Linked DNA regions of Homo sapiens. The protein of the gene in region 1 purifies or fractionates together with the protein of each later gene. This does not show direct contact. Each region holds a gene or a part of one and is shown in the gene's direction. Other genes may lie near its edges.

What was found. The genes of interacting proteins can lie anywhere in the genome.
Region 2: the proteins of CHST10 (region 1) and ERLIN2 purify together in Homo sapiens (affinity purification with mass spectrometry; one large-scale study listed by BioGRID and IntAct). This does not show direct contact.
Region 3: the proteins of CHST10 (region 1) and SERPINA12 purify together in Homo sapiens (affinity purification with mass spectrometry; one large-scale study listed by BioGRID and IntAct). This does not show direct contact.
Region 4: the proteins of CHST10 (region 1) and POF1B purify together in Homo sapiens (affinity purification with mass spectrometry; one large-scale study listed by BioGRID and IntAct). This does not show direct contact.

The regions. Positions count from the first base shown.
Region 1 is NC_000002.12:100,404,169-100,407,668, reverse strand, and holds part of CHST10 (carbohydrate sulfotransferase 10), read left to right. Parts: exon of another isoform or gene 1-222; intron 223-961; 5' UTR 962-993; coding exon 994-1,093; intron 1,094-3,500. UniProt on the Homo sapiens protein: Catalyzes the transfer of sulfate from 3'-phosphoadenylyl sulfate (PAPS) to position 3 of terminal glucuronic acid of both protein- and lipid-linked oligosaccharides.
Region 2 is NC_000008.11:37,743,134-37,746,633, forward strand, and holds part of ERLIN2 (erlin-2), read left to right. Parts: intron 1-1,221; coding exon 1,222-1,283; intron 1,284-1,437; coding exon 1,438-1,563; intron 1,564-2,435; coding exon of another isoform or gene 2,436-2,470; exon of another isoform or gene 2,471-3,417; intron 3,418-3,420; exon of another isoform or gene 3,421-3,500. UniProt on the Homo sapiens protein: Component of the ERLIN1/ERLIN2 complex which mediates the endoplasmic reticulum-associated degradation (ERAD) of inositol 1,4,5-trisphosphate receptors (IP3Rs) such as ITPR1.
Region 3 is NC_000014.9:94,495,970-94,499,469, reverse strand, and holds part of SERPINA12 (serpin A12 precursor), read left to right. Parts: intron 1-1,039; 5' UTR 1,040-1,072; coding exon 1,073-1,706; intron 1,707-2,826; coding exon 2,827-3,097; intron 3,098-3,500. UniProt on the Homo sapiens protein: Adipokine that modulates insulin action by specifically inhibiting its target protease KLK7 in white adipose tissues.
Region 4 is NC_000023.11:85,373,166-85,376,665, reverse strand, and holds part of POF1B (protein POF1B), read left to right. Parts: intron 1-3,500. UniProt on the Homo sapiens protein: Plays a key role in the organization of epithelial monolayers by regulating the actin cytoskeleton. May be involved in ovary development.

The DNA.
Region 1 (3,500 bases):
AGACAAGGAGAGTGATTCACCTGGGTCTTCATGGAGCTCTGACCCACCCAGGGTTAGGAGGCTCTCTCTGAAATTATTTGCCATCAGCACTGTGTTGAGGGGACCACTTCTCCCTGCCATGCAGAAGTGATGGATGGCCTCAGTCAGTCGGTGGAAGCCAGCTCAGCCCAGGGTCTTGTCTGTACGTGGAGAGCTTTGGCTTGAAGAAGCACTGTGTTAAAGGTGAAATGAAACACACTTTCTTGTGTCACCTGCCAAGAACTGACAGTGACTTCCCAGTTCTTTATGTGCCTCCTGCAGGAGAGTGTGGCTTCTGTGCCAGGCTGAGGACCGACATGCCCCGTGTTGCTCCCTGGCTGTGACAGCATGAAAAACACCCACCTCAGTGTTCTACCCAGGCCGCTGCTGGCAAGTGGGCGGAGGCGAGAAGCGTCAGTGTTCATTCCTTTGCTTTTTTAGAGCTTCTCTAGGTGTGGCTACATCTTGTCAGCCAGTCAGAATTTTAAACACAGCCAGCTCCTAATTGCCCCAGCATGGCTTCTGCCCACTATGAATGACCCTCAGCTAAGGCCTAGTCCTTGGCAGGCCTCTTCCTGCCACCTGCTTCCAGACCATCGTGGGAGCTCACTGGGACCTTAGCCTGGGCCCAACAGGAGTCAGGGATCAAATGTGCAAAGGAGTCTTATTCTGTGTTCTGAGAACACAAGGAAGTGGTCTTCTCTCATTATCATGTCTCTCCATTAGGGTGTTCTAAATTTGATTTTATTATTGAATCAATCATTTATATTATTAATTCAATATGAAATGTTAAATGCCAAGTCAAACTACCTATTGTAGCAGTGGAAAAAAACGGAAATATTTGTGCTGATACTTACTGACTGAAATCACCTGTCGTTTTCATTCCTCTTTGTTGACTTGATGTATTTGTAAGCAGCAGGGGCATCTCGCTTGTGTTTTCCAGGAAGAGTCAGTGAATGGCTGCGGTGTGACAACATGCACCACCAGTGGCTTCTGCTGGCCGCATGCTTTTGGGTGATTTTCATGTTCATGGTGGCTAGCAAGTTCATCACGTTGACCTTTAAAGACCCAGATGGTACGTATGCTTCATGGTGGAACGAATTTTGGCTAATTTAGACCTAGCTGCAACACTGTTCCTAGGTACATGCATAGATGACTTCTGTCACAGAGTCAAAGGACTTTCATGCCAGCAGGGACCTTGGAGGTCATGGCCTCCGTTCCTTCATGTTACAGAGGTGTGAGGGGAGGTAGGGTGGGAGGGGCTGGAGGGTCTTTTCAAGCATCTCCTCTGGAGGAAGGAAGCTGCTCTTTGTGGCTGAGGCCTGGGTGGTGCCTAGGAGCAAGGAGCAGGGTCTCCTCCCAGCAGCACAGTGGCCTTATGCCTTGCAGCAGGGCGCCTCTCAGGCTCGCAGTTGGGAATTCTCTTTGCCTCATGTCATCATGAGAGGTGCAGCCTCAACTGCTTGGCATGCCCGTGTGGTGGCCACATGTTTGAAGGTCACCCTCCATGCAGCGGAGGAGGGTCATTTAAATGTATGTCTTCAGGTTGTCTTGGAGGCTTTCTTAGCTCTCCTTTACTGAACGTAGGCATTCAGATGAGGACGGATAAAGAGCGCCAAATTGGGTCTCAGAATGCTGATTCTACTTCGTGCTCTTGTCATTTGCTTATCTACATCACAATGTTTCTTCCACCAAATGGACACCCTGCCTGCTCCGGCACCGCCCATGATTGCCCTGAGCATGGTGAGGTGCTCTGTGGTCTGTGGAGTGCTGGATATGTCCAAAGAGGTGTGTGATATGCTCTCCAGCCCCGAGGCCACTTCATTGAGTGGCCAAGCAGGCAAGCACGAGGAAGCCAGACACATGGAGTCATTGAAGTCCTCATTTGTGCCGTGGATTGGCCCATTCCTTTAGGCTGATTGGGAGATACTGGGGAACGTGGATGAGCACAGCACTTTGCTGTGCTCTGCACCGTACTTTGTCCTCCTGCCGATGGTGGCCTTGGAAAGGGGCAGTTAGAGATGCCTCTGTGCCAGCAGTTCTTCCTGGAGGCTGCACTGACCTGTGCTGTCTGTGTGGGACAGGCCCCTGCTCCACCTCACAGAGCTCCCAGGCATGTCCCTGGCTGTGTCAAGGACTGCCCGATGTCCTACACCTCCTGCCCCATCCTCTCTCTGCCCCACCTTGTCTGCAGAGGGACAGCAAGGTTAGAAGGGAGGTCTGCAGGGAAAAGAGGGACACCCTGAAATTAGCCCACATGGTGGTTCTCCCCATGACAGTTGTTGGGCCCTGATTGGCTGTCATCACATGTCCTGCCTCATCCTCCAGGAGCCCTGGAGAGAAACCTGTGAGGTCTGCACAGCCTCGGGAGGTGATATTACACCTGCAGGTATCTGGGCAGGTGTCACTGAGCATGACAGCTCACGCCCGGGACTCGGGGTTCCGTCAGCAGAGCAAGGGTCGATTCTTGGAGGGTTGCTGGAATGTGACACGATGATCTCAGTTTGACAGTTTGGACATTTCCATGGCAGCTTCAGCACAGTGCCATGCCACTGAGAGATCCCTCCTGAAGCCCTAGAGCCGGGTTCTCATCCCCGCAGCACTTCAGAATCACCTGTGGGACTTTACAGACCTGCTGCTGCTTGAGACCCAGTGAAGGAGAATCACTAGGGGTGGGGCCCAGTTGAGAAGCACAGTGGTAGATCCTAGCTGGAGAACTGAAGAGAAACAGAGCTGCTGAGAATAAGAAATAGGTGTTACTCAGGATTCTCCTAAATGTCACCTCCTGGTATGGAAGGCACTCAAAAGGCAGGTCATGAGGTTAAATTGTTTATGGTTTATTTTGCTTAAAAAAGTAGGAGTAGATGTAATACATTTTAGTGAGACTTCTATAGGTAATAGTTAAATAAGACTTGTGCCTTTGTGTTTTACTGTTATCTGGCAGAATGGCCTCTAAAGAATGCCTTGTTTCCCAGCGGCATCTGGTAAATGAGGTCTCATTCTCCTTTGATGTATCAAGTTTTGTGCTGAATGTTTTCAGTGTAGACACTGATCCTGGAAGCTAAGCAGGGGTAGGCCCGGTTAGAAAAAAAGCAAGTGTAGGCGCAGAACAGGGTTTTGTGAAGCGGAGAAAAGGAGTGGTAAGGAGTGTTAGGAGATAAAACCTATGAAGAAAGATGAAGGGCTTTCGGATTTTACACCTGGAGAGGAGCACCGCAGCGGTCCTTAATACTGCCTGTGAGATCTTTCCAGCCGGCTGCCTTCAGGCGAGTGAAAGGGGGCACTTTCCCTGCCCTGTGAGATCTGGTGTGGTGTGTGGGTGCTGGGTCACTGAGATGGGAGTGCTGCCCCTGACCCCGAGGCAGGGGCTGCTGGTGGTGAGGATGCTGTTGGCCGCACAGTGTGCAGTGAACTCAGTGAGAATCTTCTGTTGTGGGCCCACTCCCGTTGCGGGGTGACCACCACAGCACTACCCAGCCTGC
Region 2 (3,500 bases), on another chromosome or scaffold:
GGATGCTGGATTGGACAGAGACTTACAAGAAACATAAACAGAAGCAAGGGTGAGCATTGATTAGAACCTGGTTCAAAATTAACAGCTATAACAGATACGACAGAAACTATATGAGTCCACTCAGGCTGCCATGACAGAGGACTACACACCAAGGGACTAAAATAATAGATATTTTCTCACCATTCTGAAGGCCCAAAGTCCAAGATCCGGGTAACAGCAGGGGTAGTTTTGGTGAGACCTCTCTTTCTGGCTTGCAGGTGACCACCTTTTTGTCACATCCTCACAAGGCCTTTCCTCTGTATGTGCAAGAAGAGAGAAAAAGGTCTTTGGTGGATACCAGACCTTTTGGATTACAGCCCACCCTTATGACCTGTTTAACCTTAATTACCTTCTTAAAGGTCTAATCTCCAAATACAGTCACATTGGGGGTTAGGGCTTCAACATATGAATCTGGGGGCGAGGCATACACAGGTCAGTCCATAACACAAACTGTTGGGGAAATCTGAATAAGGACTGGGTATTAGGTGATATTACAGAATTATTGCTAATTTTCTTAGGCTTGGGAATGATACCATGAGTGTGTAGGAGAATGATTATTCTTAAGACAGTGCTCACCAAAGTAAAGGAGTAAAGTATCCTAACTGCAGCTTACTTTGAAATGTTCAGAAAAAAAAAAGGTCAATAAATAAGGTAAAATGTTATCAGTGTTGAATTCAGGTATCTGGATATGGATGTTAGTTATACTACTCTTTCGGCTTCTCTATGTTTGAAATCTTTTTATAATAAATATTTGAGGGCAAAGGGAGTGTGACACCAAAGTAATAGTGAAGACAGTTTAAGAAACATTGATCATAACATTCCACAGTAACCTTCTAAGTTCTGAAAACTTCACCTTGACCCTCCTTAGTCTTTTCCGTGCAACTGATTAATCAAAAGGCATTGCTGATTCCAAAGATATGAGTTACTCTTTCGTACTGGTCCCCAAAAGTCTCATTCATGTCTTTGTAGAGATGTTCCTAGGCAGTGTGATTTCTCAGGAGAGTATGTTGTTGCCATGAGCCCTGCAGAACCTCCCACTTGGAGATCCAAGCTGCCTTCCAACTTCCCGTGAACTCTTCTACTCCTTTTCTGCCAAGCCCCACATCTTACGCCATCACCCTGGGGGACTGCACCATATTCTAAGGCTTCCCAGTGACTTCTTGTCCATTCTCCCTCCAATAGTGGTGGTGTGATGATCTACTTTGACAGAATTGAAGTGGTGAACTTCCTGGTCCCGAACGCAGGTACGTCTTAACAGTTTATTCCCACCACCAGCTCACTTTCCCCAGCATGCCACTCCCGTGTCTGTTGTAGCACCTTGGAAAAGGAGAGCTGCCGTGTCTGAGGGCATTTTGAGTCTTGCCTTTTCTTATGCCAAGCCCTCTCCTTCCCTCTCAGTGTATGATATAGTGAAGAACTATACTGCTGACTATGACAAGGCCCTCATCTTCAACAAGATCCACCACGAACTGAACCAGTTCTGCAGTGTGCACACGCTTCAAGAGGTCTACATTGAGCTGTTTGGTAAGAAAGTCTCTCCTGAGCATGCCGTGCTTAAGCAGGGTTCCTGGAACCCCGCGTCTCTCCACTGCCTAAAGCCTGGCTGCCTGCAGGGTGTGATGGTCACTTATGGACAGGAAATGTTAAAGAATCTTGTGCTCAGGAGCTGGTCACAAAGGAGTTCATGGAGAATGCTGATAGCTATGCAACAAGATCCTTAGAGGGCTGGAGCTTTGGGCACAGGGACCATAGTGGAGTAGAGTATTCACTTCTGGCCTCAATCAGAGGCTGGAGTGGAAATGTGTTCCCACTGTTCCTAAACTATCATTCTATAATGAAGACAAGGTCCATTCTAGAAGAACCTTAGAGATTGTCCAGACCAGCATCCTCATTTTAAGCTGAGGGTACTGTGACCCAAAGCAAGAAAGTCACAGAGCCAGATGCCAATTAGTAGTGGGGCTGAAACAGGAGCCTTCCTCTCCTGGCTCTTCAGCATTCTTCTCACCATGCAACACTGAATGGAGGGCCCCCAGGAATGGGTGATGAAAAAGACATGATTCATAGTTAATTCTAGAAGTGAGATGAGAACCATAGCTCCTTCCAGTTCTCAGAACCTTTGTGATTATTATTTTTTTACTCTGTACCTGTAGCAACGAATAGAAAAACACTTTAAACAAAAAGATTCCACGTGCCTAAGTAGATATGTTTTGTCCTTTTTACCTTTTTCAAAGTAAAGGCAACCTGACTTAGCAGCAAAGGAAGGACACAGTTGGGTAACTGTTATAACTTGTTTGCAGTCAAGTATTCTGTTTAAACTCACTGCCAGAAATTCTCTAATAGCCAATGCCAAAAGTAAATGAATTTTTAACCAATAGTATAACTGTTCTTGACACTAGGACTGGAAAATGATTTTTCCCAGGAATCTTCATAAAAGGGACCCTGAGCAAGAACATTTTTCATAGCAGACAGGAGGACTCATCCACATCGCCAGCAATCATAATTAAGCAAACCGCCTTTTGCACCATTTAAGATTTAGGAAATCATCCAAATTACTTTTAATGTTTCTGCAGTAGAAAATGAATCTAAATTCATTTTATAGGGTTTGTAGTCTTTTATCTGTTTTGGATTCACTGTGCTTTTAAGAAAAAGTTGGTAAATTTGCCGTTGATTTTTCTTTTTAACCTCAAACTAATAGAATTTTATAAAATATTAATTTTCTCTAGCCATTGTCTTAGGACTTGTGACATTACATGAACATTTCAAAGCACTGAAAAAAGACAAAGGATCCCTAATGTCCCTGAAGAGGAAATTAAAATACAAAGTTGTTTTTCATTAGCAAACTTCTTACTTTCTTACAGCTAAACTTGGTAGCTTAGTGAAGTACAGCTGCTTGTATGGAGGAGCTGGGGAAATATATTTGCTTTGAAACTTTTTTATTTTTACATCTCAGTCTTGCTAGCAAGCACTACTTGGCTTAGAATCTGTCATATCCATAAAGGAGGAGCTCATGTCTCTAGTCCTGGCCCTTCAACTCAGAAGGTTCTTCTATACTTTCCTTCTCTCAGGACTCTTATAGCCCAGACTTTAAACATGAAGCTGCATAATTTTCATCACTTCTTACTCTGCCGCATCCTCTTTGCCCATGTTATTAAAGTATTATCTAATACTTTGAAGTTTACCTGAAGAACCTCTTTGTGTGTACTTAGTAATACAACTTTTTTTCCTGTCCCAACACCTTTTAATACAGTTGAATGGATAAAAACATGGATACAAACACATGGATATAGTTATCACTGAAGCAGTGTGACATAAAATAATACCTATGTATACAACACTCCTCTGTAAATAGCAAATGTAAAGTAAAAGATACACAACAGATCATTTTGTTTATCTCACTATCATTTATTAATCTATAATGTATCCCTCCTATGTATCCATGCAAGGAAGCAATACTAGCTGCC
Region 3 (3,500 bases), on another chromosome or scaffold:
AAATCAATAAGCTTTTTAGGCCAACATGCTTTTAGCATCTCTCTGCAGAATTAGGGCTGGAGATTAAGGGAAAACGTAGCTAAAAGTCTTGTCTCCCAGAAGCTCACAGTGGCCGTTGGAAGATGTCAAAGCTGAGAGGTGGATGAAAGGAGCAGCAGTCCAGAGCCAGGCAGACCTGGCTGTTCCTCTCCCATGGTGCCATCCTCTTCCCTCCCTGGGAAGGGTGTAGGGAAGAAGGTTTCCTGGAGATCTAAGTCCTCCTGGAATGAGTATCCACCACCTAGAGAACATATGAGCTTAAACAAAGAGCTTGATCTCTGTAAATTAGTCATAATTCTTTTGGCTGAAGGGGAAAAATTTACCTCAAACCAGCCAACTCTAAAAGGGAAATTTATTGGCTTTCATAACTTGGAAACATGGAAGTGGGTAGCAAACTGAGTTAAAGGTTAGTCCAGGGTCTCCAAAGATGTCATCAGATGTGTCAGTCCATTTCTGTCTTTCCACCTCCCTCTATCACTCTCCTCTCCTTCTACATGTGGAAACCATGGCCACATTCAGCTCCAGGGCTACTTCACAAAGCTAGCTGCCCCAAAGCTTAGGGGGTTTTGCATTCCCTTAGAAAGACACTGAGAGGTCTGATTTTGGTCCACACTCTCATCTTTAACCAGCCAGTGTGGCAAAGGAATGAAGTATTATGATGGTAGGTCTGGGCCATATGCCTACACTACGGGGTATCCTCACTGTGGTCCAATGGAGGGAAGGAGAGCTGTTCCTCAAAGGAATTGAGACACTGTTTCCATAAAGAGGGTACAAAAACAAGAGTTGTCTTCTACATTCAGTCCTCCTATTTACAAAGTGTAGAAGTCATTTCTAGTCCCCAGGGTGATTATAAAGTTTAAATGCTATAAAGGGGTCAAAGCACTCATAAACTGCTATGTACAACACATAATAGTCACTGTATTTCTTCTTTCATCTGGTCTTCCTCTGGGTAACATGTAGGCAATGGGGTTATCATGTTCTTTTTTTCTGCTGACCTCAGGTCTACTACTCAACAGGATATTCTTCAAGGAAAATGAACCCCACACTAGGCCTGGCCATTTTTCTGGCTGTTCTCCTCACGGTGAAAGGTCTTCTAAAGCCGAGCTTCTCACCAAGGAATTATAAAGCTTTGAGCGAGGTCCAAGGATGGAAGCAAAGGATGGCAGCCAAGGAGCTTGCAAGGCAGAACATGGACTTAGGCTTTAAGCTGCTCAAGAAGCTGGCCTTTTACAACCCTGGCAGGAACATCTTCCTATCCCCCTTGAGCATCTCTACAGCTTTCTCCATGCTGTGCCTGGGTGCCCAGGACAGCACCCTGGACGAGATCAAGCAGGGGTTCAACTTCAGAAAGATGCCAGAAAAAGATCTTCATGAGGGCTTCCATTACATCATCCACGAGCTGACCCAGAAGACCCAGGACCTCAAACTGAGCATTGGGAACACGCTGTTCATTGACCAGAGGCTGCAGCCACAGCGTAAGTTTTTGGAAGATGCCAAGAACTTTTACAGTGCCGAAACCATCCTTACCAACTTTCAGAATTTGGAAATGGCTCAGAAGCAGATCAATGACTTTATCAGTCAAAAAACCCATGGGAAAATTAACAACCTGATCGAGAATATAGACCCCGGCACTGTGATGCTTCTTGCAAATTATATTTTCTTTCGAGGTAAGGCTTTTGGCATGTTGGTGTGGAAAGAATAGGATGACCACTAGACTTGGGTTAAAAACCTGGGTTGGCCACTTGTTTACTCTGTGACCTTGAATTCATATGTGATTTATCTCTCAAAACCTCACTTTTCCTATCTGTAAAATGGTTACCATGATACATAACTCATACAGTTATTGAGATTTAAAGTGAAAATGTATGTGAAATGAGCTTTATGAAGTCTATCATTTTCATTATTGGTGATTATCCTAACACAACATTGGTTATAGAGGTTGGAATGACATTTTGTTCCCATCACTTAGATGAGAAAAAAAAATCAGAGTGAGATTAACTGACTTACTCCAAGTTACAAAGCCCATCATTGACAGTCAGGACTGGAACACATTTCTCCTGGCCCTAGCACTGTGTGCTTTCCAGCACTTTAAGCAGACACCTGAGATGGTGATTGTGTTGATTATGGTGATGGTGATCACTTGGTGGGTCTCCTTATGTATGTATTATATAAATTCTCCTTATCAGACTTTATATATTTCCCAGATCTGATGGAGAGAGACAGAAAAAAAAGATGGAAGAATGTTTCCAATTTCAACTTTATCCCCCAACACCACACAGAACACATGTACACAAACAGGTTGGCCAAAATAGGTGAGAATCAGAGGCCAACACCCATCAGTCCAGACAAAATCACTGCTGGAGTGTCAGGAACATGGTACTAAATATAAAAAATTGAGGGTTCTCAAAATCCACAGGCAGATTGATGGCTAAAGAAGAGTCTACTCACATCAGACTCAATTAGCCCTCATTAATTGTAATGCAGTCCCCTCTGTTAGGACATAATCAGTGGGCTTTCTCAGGCTTAGGGGAACCTGAGCTTATGGTAGTCTTCTTTTCCCCTCTTAATTTGGCAGTCTAGTCCTGGCTTCTTTGGGAACTAATAATTGCACCTGAGCCCATATCATCAGAAATCTCCAGGACATGGCATGAGGGCAAGGACTTCCCTGATATCCCGGAATATCCCCTTTCACCCTGAATCTGTGTGGAGAGAGACTACTGGTTAGTTGGATTTAGTCACCTTTTTTCCCTTGGGATAACATGTCTGTTTGTCTTTCTTCAATCTAAGCCAGGTGGAAACATGAGTTTGATCCAAATGTAACTAAAGAGGAAGATTTCTTTCTGGAGAAAAACAGTTCAGTCAAGGTGCCCATGATGTTCCGTAGTGGCATATACCAAGTTGGCTATGACGATAAGCTCTCTTGCACCATCCTGGAAATACCCTACCAGAAAAATATCACAGCCATCTTCATCCTTCCTGATGAGGGCAAGCTGAAGCACTTGGAGAAGGGATTGCAGGTGGACACTTTCTCCAGATGGAAAACATTACTGTCACGCAGGTAAAGTGGGTGCCTAGCCCTCGCAGCTTTTTCCTTCTCTTGTCTTCCCTCTTATTTCTGCTGTCTGAGCTCTTACCTCATGGCCAAGTCCTCTTCTGGGCTCTATAATAAACTTATATCATGGTGAGAATTAGACTGGGGAACAAATCATAGGAATAGAGTGAAGTGCCTGGCTCTTTGAGGGAGATTCATCAAGACTGTGAGGGCGCAGTAGATGGAGTCTTACTGGAGGGCGGTGGTCAGGGAGGACTTCATAGAGGAGATAGCATTTGAGCCAAGTCTTCAAGGGTGAGTGGCAGTCTGTATGAAAGGGTGAGGAGCAAAGGAAACTGCAAGGACAAACACGGGCTGTAAAAGAGAGCTGTGAGTTGTGAGTAGAATGATGTTGTCAACTGTGGTGTCA
Region 4 (3,500 bases), on another chromosome or scaffold:
ATTTTAAATTTATCTAGATATATAATGTTACTTTGTTTCTTTAATTAAACATATATTTTATGTTTTTTGGTTATTATTTTGTTTGATTGATAGAGTGTTTCTCAGAGAAAATTAAGTGTAGAAACCAGTTGCTGGTGAAATTTTCTAAATTAATGGTAGAATTAAAATTACTGGGTTTATCTGCATGAACACGTATAGTCAAACACAGATATAATCAAGGTCTCAGATGCATTTTAGAACTGAATGTGGTCTTGCAAATAAATAGAGTTCTAGAAGCTTAAAGTAAAACAAAAATTCTTAGTTCAATCTTTTACAAAGCTTAGCTGTTAACCTACCATCATTAACTCAAAATGAAATGCCTTAAATGAGCAACATTGATATGAATTACTCATTGGGCTAACATTCTTTCCTTCCACTAATTAAGGTTTTCATGAAGTTCGAGGTATTTTTCATGCATACAGAGCAGCTGTATACATGAGAGAGAAAAAATGTGAGAGAGAAAAAATGGATTAAAATAAAATATTTTTAAATACCAGTCATTCACTGAATACATGTTTATTAAGTGCCTATTTTTTAGCAAACACTGTGATTTTCTGGATAAATACCATTAACCTGTCCAGGGAGAGTTCATTTTTAGGACAGACATACAGAGCCTGGTCTGTAGGTGTCCCATGTGTCTATCTATATTTCATTTTAAAGGAGTATTTTGTGTTGTGACCATCAGCATTTTATCAAGTAAAACATGCTTTTGTGAGAGAAGGATTATTTTAGTGTATATGTTATAAGGGTTGCCATTCTTTTGAATTTGAAACTTGCAAAGAAACTCTAGAGAGCAGCCTGGGGGAAAATGTGTGTTTACGAATGACCTCTGTTCTCAACAATTATTCAGCTGGGGCTTACCTTTGTTTATATGATTTTTTTGTGCTTTTTCTTTGGTTGCAAAGATTGTGGATAACTCTTCTCTTCCACTATCAGAAAAGTTTCCCGTTCTGTGGGGAGGGGTGTGCTGCTTTGATAAATTGTTGTTCAAGGGCGTAGTCACTAAAGTGAATGATTGTTCAAGGAAGTGCGCTGCCTGAAAAAAGAATGAGGTCATAGGATAAAGGGGTTGCATTTTCAGCTTTGGTCTCCTCTTTTGTGCTTACAATTAAATGAAGCTATAGAAATTGGAGAGTGCAACTAATTGCTGAGTGAAAATGCCCATGGCAATTGTATCTTGTTTAACGGAGGTCTGATAAATTGCTGGGCCTGTTTTCAGTCAAAGGCACTCATAAGCTGTCACGGTGTGTGTGTGGCAAGATATGAGGGTGGCAAGTGGAAGAGAGGGAAACTGTCCTTTCAAGTTTATTTTCTTGACAATTCATGACAAAACAATTGGGAAATTTGCCATGCTCTTAAGCCCTATTTAAAAGTTAAAACTTTTATTAATAAATATATTTCAGCCAACTTTTTCTTCAGACCAGGGGCTATCCCAGTAGAGGTCATTTTTTGATTTTCAATAAAGTATATATACTCATAATTTTTAAAGACAGAAAGCATGCACTGCAAAAAAGACTGTGTATTTTATTTTCTCTCTGTCTCCTAGTTTTCTTCAGAAAAAGAAGAGAAAGAACCCAATATGGACCTCTTAAATGAGGGATTTGGGTTGGAGAGAAGGAGGAACAGGAAGTAGTTCTATTATACATTCGGTTGCTTTCTTTGTATGACAACAGAAACACAGATTTTATCCTAAATCAAAGAAGTGTTTATTTCATCTAAAGAGAGATTATTATAAATAACATGTTTCTTGCTATATAAGTTGAGTATAACATCTCAACAATAACCTCAGACAGGTGTTTAACTATGTTACATGGCTTTGAAAGATCCTAACAAAAACATCTCCCATACTATTCAGGGAATTTATTCAAATGGAGGTTTGCCTTGGCAAATTCTGTCAGCATAAATGTCAGGTGGTTTTTAAAGATATTGCTTCTTTTGAAACTGTTCAGCCTAGAGTATTTGTAACTCACCATTATTACCTTCAGTGATTCTCATAGTCATTGGGAGTAACAGGAGCATACACAAACCTTCCATGGTTTTCCTTCATGGAATATTATACTGTATATTAGTCTTTATGTAAAGTTTTAAAATTCAAATTAGACAACATAAAGAGTTATACTTTCATGTTAGCAAGTTTCCAAATATTTAGAAACAAAGCCTGCACTACGTATGTAATATTCTCTATGATTTAATTCTCATTACCTTCAGTCTTTCTTGTATGTCTTACACCAGGCTTTTGAGCTCTTTGACCACAGCTATCAACAGGAAAATGAAGCCAACAGGTCTTGACTGAAGAGGTTCAGATTTTGCAGTCTAAAGACCAATTGCAGAGAAAATTGTATGAAGAAAATGCCCAAAAAGGTCTATGTGGAATGTCTCAGGAAGAGCTGTAAATAAATATGCAATCATGAGGTGAACTTTGGCAGAATAGAACTATGAAGCAGTCTAGTTGGAGTCCCTAGGAATATTAATTTTAAAATCTCCACAACTTTAATTACACCTAAGAATATGTTCTCTAGAAAAGTTGCTTAAATTCCCTATACACATCCCATATCACTCCTCTGCTGCAAAAACCTTCAATGACACTAAGTATCTATAAATTGCTTAGTCTGACTTTCAAGGCCCTCCATGTTAGGGCTCCTGTGGAACTTCCTGGAACTCTCCTTCTGGTGTCCTATGTTTTAGCTAAGTGTAAATGATTGTTCTCTAAATAAAGTCCCCAATTTTCCACAGCTATGTCTTTCACTCCATTGCTCTTACATCTGAACTGCTCCTGCTCCTCACCCTCACCAATCTAGACACCCTGAAATTATACAAATTTTTCAAGCCTTTCCTCAAGTGTAACCTTCTGATCCTCTGATTGTCCCAGGTTGAAGTTATCTCTTAGCCCTCAAAACTTACCTAGTGAGCTTCTTATAGGTCTTATGATAGTCTACTTAATTCCTATTTGTACTCATAGTGTTTATGCCCTACATGATTATAACCATGAGAGGGTAGAGATTATATTCTAACATCATTTGTATCTCTTTCAATGCCACTACACAATAAGTAGTAAAGAAACTGCAAGTTAGTAACTTAGTCACATATATAATCAATCCAGTGAAAATAATATTTCATATTAATACATGGGTTTTTTGTTTTTCACAACTCTTCCATGTATATGATTATCTAGTAAACAACTTGATAGAACCTCAACAATTAGATAAAACATGCATTATTATGTTTATTGTACAAATTGTACGATGTACAAATAAAGACAATATTCATTGTGTATTATTTATCTGTTAAACAAATAAGGAAATTGAGACTCGAATAGCTCAAAATAACTTGCCTATTTAGTACAGCTGGTTAGTGAATGCCCTGAGTTTAAAAACCAGCTCCTGATATTTTCATTACATCAGCTATCTCCCTTAATTAACTTTCGATATTCATGATTTCAGTTTAAATTAGTTCACATTTTT